Regions from separate parts of the Homo sapiens genome. Here region 1 is linked to region 2. Evidence: fine-mapped expression QTL. Tissue or cell type: whole blood. Region 2 holds a variant in brackets; the other region holds the start of a gene. All regions are shown on one strand. Distances are from middle to middle.

Region 1 (6,185 bases), 27 kb after region 2:
ATGCGATGCTGACACTTTTTTCTAGAATGTTCTCGGAACCTGGAAGAATCTGGACTGAAGAACACTTACTGTGGTGTCCCTATATTCAGAATTTCCTCCGTCAATGATGATGTCACCAGTATCCAACAATGGTACCTGTAACCAGACACCAGCATTAAGATGGACCAAAAATGAAACATACCTTGGCAAATTAAAACAAACAAGAATTTATTCCAAATAAACATAGTCTAAAAAGAGTCTCGTTCTGTTGCCCAGCTTGGAATGCAGGAGTGCGAACATGGCTCACTGAAACCCTGAACTCCTGCAGTGGTGTGAACATGACTCACTGCAACTTTGAACTCCTTGAACCACAATGCCCAGCTAGTTTTAAAATTTTTTTTGTAGGCCAGGCGCGGTGGCTCACGCCTGTTATCCCAGCACTTTGGGAGGCCGAGGTGGGTGGATCATAAGGTCAGGAGATCAAGACCATCCTGGCTAACATGGTGAAACCTCGTCTCTACTAAAAATACGAAAAATTAGCCGGGCGTTGTGGCAGGCGCCTTGTAGTCCCAGCTACTCGGGAGGCTGAGGCAGGAGAATGGCGTGAACCCGGGAGGTGGAGCTTGCAGTGAGCTGAGATCGCAACACTGCACTCCAGCCTGGGGGACAGAGTGAGACCCCGTCTCAAAAAAAAAAAATTTTTTTTGAGATGGAGTCTCACCATGTCGCCCAGGCTGGTCTCAAACTCCTGGGCTAAAAGCCTCCTGGCTTGGCAGGAGGCCAACGCACCCAGCCTACTTAATCTTCAATAATCCTCTCTGTGGCCAGAGCTGCACACTATTTAAAAGTTTAGGGCTGACCAGGCTCAGTGGCTCACACCTGTAATCCCAACACTTTGGGAGGTTGAGGCAGGAGGATCGCTTGAGCCCAGGAATTTGAGACCAGCATGGACAGCATAGCAAGACCCCATTTCTATTTTTAAGTAAGTATACAGATTAAACACTGACTATAATGTGTCTAGAAGAGAGTGGGGATTCAGTAAATACATATCAAATGGTTTAGTGTATGAATGAATGATTTTATGACAACAGTTCGGAGGTCAGGAAGAGACAGAGCCTTGAACATGAATATCTACCTACAGCACACCAACCAGGCTGGGCTTTATTATTATTATTACTTTATTAATTAATTAATTAATTTATTTATTTATTTGAGACGGAGTCTCGCACTGTCACCCAGGCTGCAATGCAGTGGTGTGATCTCGGCTCACTGCAAGCTCTGCCTCCCGGGTTCACGCCACTCTCCTGCCTCAGCCTCCCAAGTAGCTGGGACTACAGGCACCCACCACCACGCCTGGCTAATTTTTTGTATTTTTAGTAGAGATGGGGTTTCACCGTGTTAGCTAGGATGGTCTCGATCTCCTGACCTCATGATCCACCCACCTCTGCCTCCCAAAGTGCTGGGATTACAGGCGTGAGCCACCGCGCCCAGCCTGGGCTTCATTATATTATTCAATCTTCCCCCTACAAGGCTCCAGTTAACATTACTTAGTATTTTCCTATACTGAAGAATAATCCACCATTTTTCAGTTTTCTCTGTCTGAAACTGATTACAGGCAGCTTGCCACACAAAAAATTTAGTATGTCCTTTTTTTAAACTCAGTGTTCTTCCTTTCTAGGTCATTTGATTGAAAAACAGTGGCATACTGGTTACAAATCCTTCTCCCTGTGGAAACAACCCCACTGTTGACACGACTCCTCTAGAAAGGAATGCTCAGCCTCCCCTGAGCTATCACTGCACTGCTTACAGCAAAACATTTCTTCTAAATGGGAGTGCCTGGGTTTTTTCAGAGTTGTTACTATAGAATTATTTTGGGTATCTAAACACATTATTTCCACTGGTTCCCCTACTTTTTTCTTCCAAAAAAGATATACCTGCTAAAGCCAACAAATTGTTTGGTACAAAAATAAGCATCCAGTTCCCTAGGATTCCCTAAGGAGATCTTGATTTTATTTTCATTTTTTTTTTGAGACGGAGTCTCGCTCTGTCGCCAAACTGGAGTGGCACAATCTCAGGTCACTGTAACCTCCACCTCCCAGGTTCAAGTGATTCTCATTCCTCAGCCTCCCGAGTAACTGGGATTACAGGCATGAGCCACAAAGCCCAGCTAATTTTTATATTTTTAGTAGAGACGGGGTTTCACCATGTTGGCCAGGCTGGTCTCGAACCTGGGACCATAAGCTTGTAGCTGGGACCATAAGCTTACACCACCATACCCAGCTAATTTTTTAATTTTATGTAGAGACAGGGTTTCGCCATGTTGCCCAGGCTGGTCTCGAACTCCTGGGCTCAAACGATCCATCTGAACCAGCCTCCCAAAAAGTGCTGGGATTACAGGCCTGAGCCACTGTGCCCCGCCTTAATGTTTATTGAAATGTCTGTTAGTATTCTCAGAATTACTACCACCAAAGGACAAAGTTACTTCATAAGCGCTTATCAAGTTAACCAACACTGCAACAGTTAAGCAATCATTTGGTCAGAGCTTAGCAGAAATTGAAAAAAAAAAATCTCTAGAGTTAAAAGAAGGAGAACTAAAGGAAGAAACCAAAAACAGCTGCTATCGTGGTAGCAGCTGAGAGCACAGCTGGCCTCACCAATTTCTCGATGAAATCATCCACAGCTTGCCCAGCCTTCACCAGGAGGATGATCCGCCGGGGCTTCTTCAGCTTGGAGACCATCTCTTTCAGGGACTGGGCACCCACCACTTTGGTTCCCTTTGCCTCATTGGCCAAGAAATCATCAACTTTGGAGACAGTCCTATTAAAAGCACAGACCTAGAAGGACAAAAGTCCTGAGTAGGAGATCCAGGACACACAAGACTTTCAGACTGTGGCCAAAGTAACAATGACCTTTCCATTCAACCCAAGTTCTGGGGAGGTCAGACCTGCCTTTGCCTTTTCTTCCCCCAGCTGTGGGAGGCTCACTGTAAAGTTATGTCACCTCAGTAGGATGAAAACGGCGGACAACCGAGGCGAAGGCCAACTACCCCCGGTGTGTCAGGTAGAATCCACACCCAACGTGTTAGGACTCAAAATCAAATCCAGGAACTGGCCGGTTCAACAGGCTCTATCTGTTGTTATTGATCATCCTGGCGTCTAAGCCACTTTAACATTTAGAAGAAACATTTTCACTCTCCCCAGATCTCATCAGGCAATCAAGTTAGAGCTCTACACAGCCAGCAAGGGTTCTCCTCCCGCACCCTTCTTCTCTACTTAAGACACTAATTCGTTCATTCGGGCTGTGAACCTCACGGACCCACAGGCACACTCCGCAGGACTAAGTTCGGGATCGGCCCGCCCACGCCTACAGGGTGCTTCTCCTTTCCATACAAAAATGCCACGAGCAGCAACAGAGCACATTAGCAAAGCACGGCCAGGAGACCCGTAAGCTCCCAAACCTATCGCCGGCCTCGGCTAAAGCGCCCGGGAACCAGAGAGAAGACAACGCGCCCACGCCGCTTACCACAAAGCCGTGGTCATTCATGTTCAGAATTAAGTTCTGGCCCATGACGGCCAATCCGATCAGCGCGATGTCAGCTCTAGAGAGGCAGAAACAGAACAAAGGAAAGAGTCAGCACCGCTCGACGCGCTGCAACCCAGGGGTCCGGTCCTTCCACATTTGGCCGTGACTGGGAGTCTGCACTTTCCTCCGCGCCTCCCGCGGGCCCCCAGAAGCCGGGCGCGCACGCTGCAGAGCCTCGGCCGGGCAGGCGGCCCCCAGCCCCGCCCTCGCGCCCGGCTCCCGCTGGCACGCGTCCCGCAGGTGTCCCTGCAGACTCGGCGAGGCCTGGCCGCGCCTCCTCCCTGGCCCTCGAAGGGACCCGCCCCGCCCCATGCCTGCGCGGCCGAGAGGGCAGGGGGCCGGGCCCGCAGGGAAGGAGCTCTGGGCCCGAGACGCCGTAGGGCCAGGGTCACAGAGCCCCAAGTGAGCTCAGGCGACCCCCAGGGTGGGAGGCGTCGGAGAGAACGAGGGAGATCTCGACCCCCAAAGAGTTCCCCGCCCGCTGAGGCCGAGCCGGGCTGCCCCTGGCGAGTCACTCACTGGGCCATGGCGGCGGACAGAGCAGAACCGAAGAGCGGCGACGCGCGGAGGACGAGTGAGGGAAAGACCCGCAGCGGCTCCCTCCAGAAACTGCGGCCGCTCACGCCCGGCTTTTCGGCGCCGGCCAATCGAATGGAAGGGGGTGGAGCCATGAAGCCACACCATTGGCTCTCCCCGACGCCTGTTAGACCATCCGAGGCAAACGTGCCCGCCCACCCCCGGGGGCCGGATCAGTGGAGCGCCGAGCACCTAGATGACATTGCCCCGGCGAGGCTCCGGGCTCCCCGCCCACGCGCAGAGCTTTCCGCTCGTCCCAGCTGCACCTCGGTCCTGCAGGCCGTCCGCCTGGCGCAGCTGTAGCCATAGCAACTCACGCAGGACCGCGCTTTACAGTTTACCAGGCACTCGGACGCCTTTGGCGCGAGCGCCCGTCGCTCCTTCCTCAGGTCACTGCGGTGCACCGTGCGGGTCCGCGTCGTGTCCTCCGCTCCGGAGCAGGGACCGGGCGTGCTCGTTCAGTCCTGTGCGCACTCGGAATGGGGCCGGGGAAGGCTGAGCCTCAGGGCGACCCTGATGTGGAGCCGTGCGACCGCTCACTGCGGTTGAAGAGACCCAGGCGCAGACAGCGCAGGCGGGGTATGTATTGGTTGGAGTATGATGGGGTCAGGACTTGAGTCTTTTACCCAGGCCCGGAGTTAACGGTATTGAACCCCTTCTCATTTTGTAGAGGCTATGTGACCCGCGAGATGGACCAGGTTAAATGCAGAGGCAGATACAAAAAACCAGCCATCTTAAGCCAGACATTTGCAAAGTAGCCAAGCAGCGCTTCTTATCTTACTGAGTCCCTTCTTGCTAGGAGGAAATTGTTATTCAGAAGTTTGAGTTTTAGATTTTTTTTGTTTTTTTTGAGACGGAGTCTCGCACTGTCGCCCGGGCTGGAATGCAGTGGTGTGATCTCAGCTCACTGCACCTTCCGCCTCCCGGGTTCAAGCAATTTTCCTGCCTCAGCCTCCCAAGTAGCTGGGATTACAGGCGCCCGCCACCACGCCCAGCTAATTTTTGTATTTTTAGTAGAGATGGGGTTTCACCATCTTGGCCAGGCTGGTCTCAAACTCCTGACCTCGTGATCCGCCCGCCTTGGCCTCCCAAAGTGCTGAGATTACCGGCGTGAGCCACCGTGCCCGGCCTTTTTTTGATGTCATTGTTGAGATGGAGTCTGGCTGTGTCTCCAGGCTGGAGGGCAGTGGCGCGATCTGGGCTCACTGCAACCTCCACCTCCCAGGTTCAAGCGATTCTCCTGCCTCAGCCTCCCAAGTAGCTGGGACTACAGGTGTGTGCCACCATGCCCAGCTAATGTTTTTATTTTTAGTAGAGACAGGGTTTCACCATGTTGGCCAGGCTGGTCTCGAACTCCTAACCTCAAGTGATCCACCCACCTCAGCCTCCCAAAGTTCTGGGATTAGAGGTGTGAGCCACTGTGCCCGGCCGGTTTTTAATTTTTATAAAGACCAGGTCTTTGCTCTGTTGCCCAGGCTGGAGTGCAGTGGCATGACCATAGCTTACTGCAGCCTTGAACTCCTGAGGTCGAGCAATCTTCTAGCCTCAACTTCCTGAGTAGCTAGGACTACAGGCATGCAACACCATGCCCGGCTAAGACATCCTACTTTAAAATATGTCAAACTTCACAGCACAGTTCTTTTTTTAAAATACAGATTTAATGAGATAATTTACATGTCATACAATTCAAACATTGTAAGTACACATTTGGATGACCTTTAATTTATACTGTTGTGTAGCCATCACCATAATCCACTTATAGAAAACTTCCATCACCCCAAAACGTTCCCTTGGGCCTATTTGTAGTCAGTCTCTGCTCTCACCCCCAGCCAACCTCTGATCTACTTTGCATGGTTTTTGCCTTTTCCAGAAATTTCATAGAAATGGAATAATAGCATATAATTTTTTTGGTCTGGCTTCTTTCACTTAGCATCACGTTTCTGAGGCTCATCTGTGTTGTAGGTATGAGTGGTTTGTTCCTTTTCATTGCTGAGTGGTATTCCATTAATGCAATTGTGTCATCATTTGCTTATCCATTTATCTGTTGA
Region 2 (7,356 bases):
CAGCTACCCTGACAAGTGATTATTCTTATGACGATTTTGCAGAGAAGAAAATTGCGTCTGGGCCGAGTCGATACGATCACAAGTTGGCGGGGCAGAGATTCGAACCCACATCTAAGGACGAGCTCTGGGCCTGACTGGTCCGCACCGCGTCCCTGCATCAGTAACGAGGGGTCGACGCCTCCAGGGCCAGCGTTCCAGAGCTCCGGCCCGAACCGCCCACCGCGTACGGGCGTCACCTGGAATGTCTAATGCCGACGTTGTACCCTCACGAAAACCCCATCTGAGAAGGGGAAACCGAGGATTCATCGCAAGGCCAGAAGGTGGCCTCTCGCCGCCGGACCCCGGCGCCCGCACGCTCCCCTAGAACCGCTTCCTCCCCAGCCAGCGCAGGCCAGGGTCCAGCCGCGTTGCCGCGGAAACCGCCTCCCAGCACCACCCGCGGCAGTTAAGCCAACGCATGCGCAGCCGCGGGGGGCGCCCGGGGGCGGGGTGCCGATGAGAAGCCGCCGGGGGCTGCCGGGTACTTTTCTGTCCAGAAACTCGACGCCGTCCTGCCCCAGCCCAGCCCGACCCCCGTTTTCCTGTACCTGTTGGTAAGAGAATCGCTGCTGCTCCTCGGTCTCCGCCTCCTCCTCCATCACTGCGGGCCGACCCTGGGCAAACGCAGGAGGGCCGAGAAGGGGCGGTGGTGCGCGGCCAGGTCGGATTTTCCCGCCGCGGCGCGAGCGACGGGCCGCGCGGGCGGACAAAGTACGCAGCTCCGCCCTGCCTCGCGCGCCCCCTGGCGGCGCTCCGTTGAGGGGATTCCGCCGTCGGCCTCCAGCCAGCCCCCTGCTCAGCTTGCTCTGCGGAGGTGGCCGGGCGACGCGGGGACATGACCACCGAGGTCACTGCTGCACCCCAGAGCCTGATTCAGCGCCTGGCACAACGCTGAGCACCACTCTCCGCGAAACACGTGTGCGCATAGGTGCAAAGCGTGTTCCAGTCGGGTGTAGAGGATGCGTAGCCCACGATTTACAGATCATGTAACGCAGTACACATTATCAGGAGCTCCATGCACCTGTACCTCAGGTGTATCTTGCAAAATCGACCATCAACTTTATCATTCTATCACCAACAATAGCGTCACAAAGACTACAATGAGTGAACGACCCGTGACCTCATTCAGCGAGTGGAACAGGAACTGCGTTGTTGCCATTGGCAGGAGTATAGTTCTGACACAAGTGTTACTGTTTTTCCTTTATGTTAACGATGAAGTGAGACCATCAAACCCAATTTTGGTTTGTTTTTATTGTAGTTTTTTGAGAGGCAGGGTCTCACTCTGCCGCCCAGGCTGGAGTGCAGTGGCACCACCAAGACTCACTGTAACCTCCACCTCCTGGGCTCAGGTGATCCTCCCACTTCAGCCTCCCAAGTAGCTGGGACCACAAGCCTGCATCAGCGCACCTGGCTAATTTTTATTTTTTGTAGAGACCAGGTCTCACTATGTTGCCCAGGCTGGTATCAAACTCCTGGCTTCAAACAATCATCCCACCTCAGCCTCCCAAAGTGCTGGAATTACAGGTGTGAGCCACCATGCCCTGCCTGTATTTCTAGGTTTTTGTTTTATTATTTTTTATTGCCTATATTTCTGTATTCTGCATTTGTCACAAGCAGGTGCTACTTTCAGAACGAAGGAAAGCACATAAAGCCACTCCTTGTCTTCCTTTCCCAGGGACGTCCCTCAAGTTCCCTAAGCTTGCCAGGGGCTGAAACCCAGATCAAAGCTTTTTGGAGGAATCAGCCTTCTGAGGACTTTCCTCTGCATCTGCTCAGTGGGTGGCATCTGGAAATGACAGGCACTTCTCGCCTCTGTCCACTGCTCTCTGTGGGCATCCCAGTCTACCTGGACAGTCCTCCTGCCCAAGCAGGGCAAGCCTCTGACGGATTCCCCTAATGGGCAGCATGGGGCTGGGCAGGGCAGGCCATCCAGAGTGAGACCAAGCCTGCAGCAGGAGAGAAGGCCGGTCGCTGGTTGGTGAGCAGCCCCATTTAGAGCACACTGTGGCTGCAAAGCCCAGCTCCCTCCCTTGAGCCTGGTGACCCCAAGCAAGTCACAGGACGTGGCCAAGCTTCATGTCCCTTATTTATCAACTGGGGACAGTAGTTCCAACTTCACAGGGCAGGTGTCAGGTTTTAAACAATTGCCTCACATAAGAGCTAAAGAAATTGTAACAATTCGTCCCAGGAAGTTCCTGTGCTTTGTACCTGTGTGTTCCCTCATTTTAAAGCAGTTGCTTCCCAGGATTAAAGAACAGTATTCCAGTGACATGTGTGCAATACAGAGGCACTTAAGAGCCTCAGAGGCTAGGAGCAGTGGCTCATACCTGTAATTCCTGCACTTTGGGAGGCCGAGGCAGGTAGATCACTTGAGGTGAGGAGTTCAAGACCAGCCTGGCCAACATGATGAAACCCTGTCTCTACCAAAAAATACAAAAATTAGCCAGACATGGTGGCACATGCTTGTAATCCTAGCACTTGGGAGGCTAAGGCAGGAGGATTGCTTGAACCCGGGAGGTGAAGGTTGCAGTGAGCTGAGATCGCACCATAGCACTCCAGCCTGGGCAACAGAGCGAGACTCTGTCTCAAAAAAAAAGGTCTGAGAAATAGGTCGAGGGTTGAGGTATTCATTACAGAAAATGGAACTGGGTGTGGTGGTTCAAGCCTGTAATCCCAACACTTAGGGAGACCAAGGCAGGAGGATCACTTGAGCCCAGTTCAAGGCTATGGTGAGCCGTGATTGCCCCACTGTTTTCCAGCCAGGGTGACAGAGGGAGACACTGTCTCTAAAAAAAATAATGAAAAAAGGATATATTAATATTTGGTTGAAACTTACTTGATGAAGAAGTAGCCCTATAATCTGGCCACTAGATGT[C/T]AGTGTTGCACTACAGCGTGAAGCAAGGCCAGGGATGCCCGCTGGCAATGTTGCCATGACACTGAGCACTTTGCACTTGTCCTCGCTCTAGGCACTCATTTAATATCTCATCTGCCCTCAAAAGTAGGTGCTGTTAGCCCCATTTTACATGAGGAAACAGGTGAAAGAACTCTGCCCAAGGCTAAACTACTGGGAAGTGATAGAGACCAGATTTGATTATTAGGCTGGTTTCCGAGTTTCCGGTTTATCCACTGCCCTCACCATAAATAAGACAAAGACCTTGGTGGGTTTCTTTAATCCTTTTCATCTGCATTAAGGAGGGTTCCATAAATATTTAGTTCAGCCGGGCGTGGTGGCTCACGCCTATAATCCCAGCACTTTGGGAGGCCGAGGCAGGCGGATCACCTGAGGTCAGGAGTTCGAGACCAGCCTCAACATGGAGAAACCCTGTCTCTACTAAAAATACAAAATTAGCCAGGCGTAGTGGTGCATGCCTGTAATCCCAGCTACTCGGGAGGCTGAGGCAGGAGAATCGCTTGAACCTGGGAGGCGGAGGTTTTGCGGTGAGCTGAGATCGTGCATTGCACTCCAGCCTGGGCAAACAAGAGCGAAACTTGAAGGGGTGGGTTGCCCCTCCACACCTGTGGGTGTTTCTCGTTAGGTGGAACGAGAGACTTGGAAAAGAAAAAGACACAGAGACAAAGTATAGAGAAAGAAATAAGGGGGCCCAGGGGACCAGCGTTCAGCATATGGAGGATCCCGCCGGCCTGAATTCCCTTAGTATTTATTGATCATTCTTGGGTGTTTCTCGGAGAGGGGGATGTGGCAGGATCATAGGATAATAGTGGAGAGAAGGTCAGCAGATAAACACTTGAACAAAGGTCTCTGCACCATAGATAAGGTAAAGAATTAAGTGCTGTGCTTTAGATATGTGTACACATAAACATCTCAATGCCTTGAAGAGCAGTATTGCTGCCCGCCTGTCCCACCTCCAGCCCTAAGGCGGTTTTCCCCTATCTCAGTAGATGGAACATACAATCGGGTTTTATACTGAGACATTCCATTGCCCAGGGACGGGCAGGAGACAGATGCCTTCCTCTCGTCTCAACTGCAAGAGGCGTTCCTTCCTCTTTTACTAATCCTCCTCAGCACAGACCCTTTACGGGTGTCGGGCTGGGGGACGGTCAGGTCTTTCCCTCCCACGAGGCCATATTTCAGACTATCACATGGGGAGAAACCTTGGACAATACCTGGCTTTCCTAGGCAGAGGTCCCTGCGGCCTTCCGCAGTGTTTCTGTCCCTGGGTACTTGAGATTAGTGAGAGGTGACAGCGTGCTGGCAGTCCTAAAGCCCTCGCTCGCTCTCGGCACCTCCTCTGCCTGGGCTCCTACTTTGGTGGCACTTGAGGAGCCCTTCAGCCCACCGCTGCACTGTGGGAGCCCCTTTCTGGGCTGGCCAAGGCCAGAGCCGGCTCCCTCAGCTTGCAGGGAGGTGTGGAGGGAGAGGCGCAAGCGGGAACCAGGGCTGCGCGCGGCGCTTGCGGGCCAGCTGGAGTTCCGGGTGGGCGTGGGCTTGGCGGGCCCCGCACTCGGAGCAGCCGGCTGGCCCTGCCCGCCCAGGGCAATGAGGGGCTTAGCACCCAGGCCAGCGGCTGCGGAGGGTGTACTGGGTCCCCCAGCAGTGCCAGCCCACCGGCGCTGCACTCGATTTCTCACTGGGCCTTAGCTGCCTTCCTGTGGGGCAGGGCTCGGGACCTGCAGCCCGCCATGCCTGAGCCTCCCACCCACTCCGTGGGCTCCTGTGTGGCCCGAGCCTCCCCGATGAGCGTGGCCCCCTGCTCCACGGCGCCCAGTCCCATCGACCACCCAAGGGCTGGGGAGTGTGGGCGCATGGCGCAGGACTGGCAGGCAGCTCCACCTGCAGCCTGGTGCAGGATCCACTGGGTGAAGCCAGCTGGGCTCCTGAGTCTGGTGGGGAGGAGGAGAACCTTTATGTCTAGCTCAGGGATTATAAATACACCAATCGGCACTCTGTATCTAGCTCAAGGTTTGTAAATACACCAATCAGCACCCTTTGTTTAGCCCAGGGTTTGTGAATGCACCAATCGACACTCTGTATCTAGCTACTCTGGTGGGGCCTTGGAGAACCTTTGTGTCTAGCTCAGGGATTGTAAACGCACCAGTCAGCGCCCTGTCAAAACAGACCACTGGGCTCTACCAATCAGCAGGACGTGGGTGGGGCCAGATAAGAGAATAAAAGCAGGCTGCCCAAGCCAGCAGTGGCAACCCGCTTGGGTTCCCTTCCACGCTGTGGCAGTTTTGTTCTTTGCAATAAATCTTGTTACTGCTCACTCTTTGGGTCCACGCTGCTTTTATGAGCTGTAACACTCACCGCGAAGATCTGCAGCTTCACTCCTGAGCCAGTGAGACCACGAGCCCACGAGAAGGAAGAAACTCCGAACACATCCGAACATCAGAAGGAACAAACTCCAGATGCGCCACCTTAAGAGCTGTAACACTCACCGCGAGGGTCCGCGGCTTCATTCTTGGAGCTAGTGAGACCAAGAACCCACCAATTCCGGACACATTAGGGAGTGGTGATGACTCTTAACGAGCATGCTGCCTTCAAGCGTCTGTTTAACAAAGCACATCTTGCACAGCCCTTAATCCATTTAACCCTGAGTTGACACAGCACATGTTTCGGAGAGCACAGGGTTGGGGGTAAGGTTACAGATTAACAGCATCTCAAGGCAGAAGAATTTCTCTTAGTACAAAACAAAATGGAGTCTCTTATGTCTACTTCTTTCTACACAAACACAGTAACAATCTGATCTTTCTTTTCCCCACAAAACTCCGTCTCAAAAAAAAAAAAAAACTGCACTGTAAAATGTCAATACAAAAATCAATCTTGGCTGGGCGTGGTGGCTCATGCCTGTAATCCCAGCACTTTGGGAGGCCGAGGCGGGTGGATCACCCGAGGTCAGGAGTTTGTGACCAGCCTGGCCAACATGGTGAAACCCCATCTCTACTAAAAATACAAAAATTAGCCAGGCATGGTGGTGCACGCCTGTAATCTCAGCTACTAAGGAGGCTGAGGCAGGAGAATCGCTTGCCCAGGAGGCGGAGGTCGTAGTGAGCCAAGATCATGCCATTGCACTCCAGCCTGGGTGACAGTGAGACTACATCTCAAAAAAAAAAAAAAAAATCAATCTCCATTTCATAGGTTTATTCAAGAGAAGATAAAAATTTAAAAATAATTATCGTTAAATATTATATGTATCCTGTAAGCACATGAGGTCAGGACTTTGGACTTCTCTCACCCCGACAGAGGGTACCTAGCACAATGCTTGGCACATGGTAGGTGTACCATAAACATGCCGAATGACTGAATGAGTGGGGCGATGAACTGTGCACGCCGACAGGTCAGTTTCATGATTAAGTGTATGGACTCTGGCACCAGATCTCTGGGGTTCAATTCCAGTTCTTCAGTAGCTCTGACCTTGGACGAATTACTTAATATCAGTGTGCTTCATCTCTAAATTAGGGATAGTAATAGTGCTTACTTCAGAGGGTGCTGCGAGCATTCAATGAGTTACAGAGCCTGGCATATGCTCTCAATGTTAGCTAGTAGTATATATACTATATGAGACCCTCAGGAAAAGCCCCAAATAGTGCCGGTTCCCAACTCTGCTATGTAACAGATTTTCCTTTTCAGGGGCAGCATATGTGGCAGACTGTAATTTACGAAGATGGCAAGAACAATGTCTCCTGATCCATGTGCTTTTCTAGAACCTCATACTCCCCCATCAAGAGGTAGAGTCTAATCCTCTGCCCCTTGAGTCTGGGGGACTTGCGGCTTGCTTGGAACCGATTTTGGATGGCTATAATCCTGCCATGTAACATTCACAGCTGGGTTTTTAAAAGCCACGTGTGTGCTTCTGCCTCCTTAGTGAGAACCCTGGGCCAACAAACAAGATGTTTCTCTGGCCTGAGGCCATGTGATGAGGCCACATGAACTTTTTCCAGCTCATAGCCCTAGCTGAGGTCCCAGCCAACAGCCAGCATCCACCGCGAGATGAATGAGAGAGGACACTCCACGCCCCCGAGCCATGGTGCCACCCCTGCTCTCGAGTCCTCCTAGCTGAGGCCCCAGACATTGTGGAGCAGACAAGCTGCCTCTGCCTCCCCCGTCCCCCACCATGCTCTTTCCAGATTCATGACCCACAGAATTAGAAGAAAATTTAAATGGTGATTATTTTACACCACTGACTTTGGGGTGGTTTGTTACACACCAGTCCGCAGCAACTGTGACAGCATACAAGATTTAACAGAGTGAGCAGACGCATTCGCCCGCATGCTGAACAGCGTGCTGAAGGCTCCCACCCCTTCCAAAATGATGGGCTCCACATCTGCCTCAAAGAACGTGTAACCCCTGCAAATCCT

Evidence for each region. PIP is the estimated chance that this variant, and not a neighbour inherited with it, causes the effect.
Region 1: it holds the start of PGD, and the variant in region 2 is fine-mapped to the expression of PGD in whole blood (TOPMed, PIP above 0.99).

Annotation. Positions count from the first base shown.
Region 1 is chr1:10,397,021-10,403,205 of GRCh38, reverse strand. It overlaps PGD (phosphogluconate dehydrogenase), which reads right to left and starts at 4,142. Exons shown (of 13, transcript NM_002631.4): 1 at 4,081-4,142; 2 at 3,502-3,577; 3 at 2,634-2,813; 4 at 70-135. The coding sequence starts at 4,088. RefSeq lists silencers at 3,376-3,552, 3,645-3,964 and an enhancer at 4,445-4,754.
Region 2 is chr1:10,423,800-10,431,155 of GRCh38, reverse strand. CENPS-CORT (CENPS-CORT readthrough) reads right to left here and starts at 723. Exons shown (of 4, transcript NM_199006.3): 1 at 588-723. The coding sequence starts at 638. It overlaps CENPS (centromere protein S), which reads right to left and starts at 723. Exons shown (of 5, transcript NM_199294.3): 1 at 588-723. The coding sequence starts at 638. RefSeq lists enhancers at 76-125, 4,039-4,644, 4,645-5,250 and silencers at 376-625, 2,790-3,084. The variant C/T (reference allele first, on the strand shown) is at 2,915.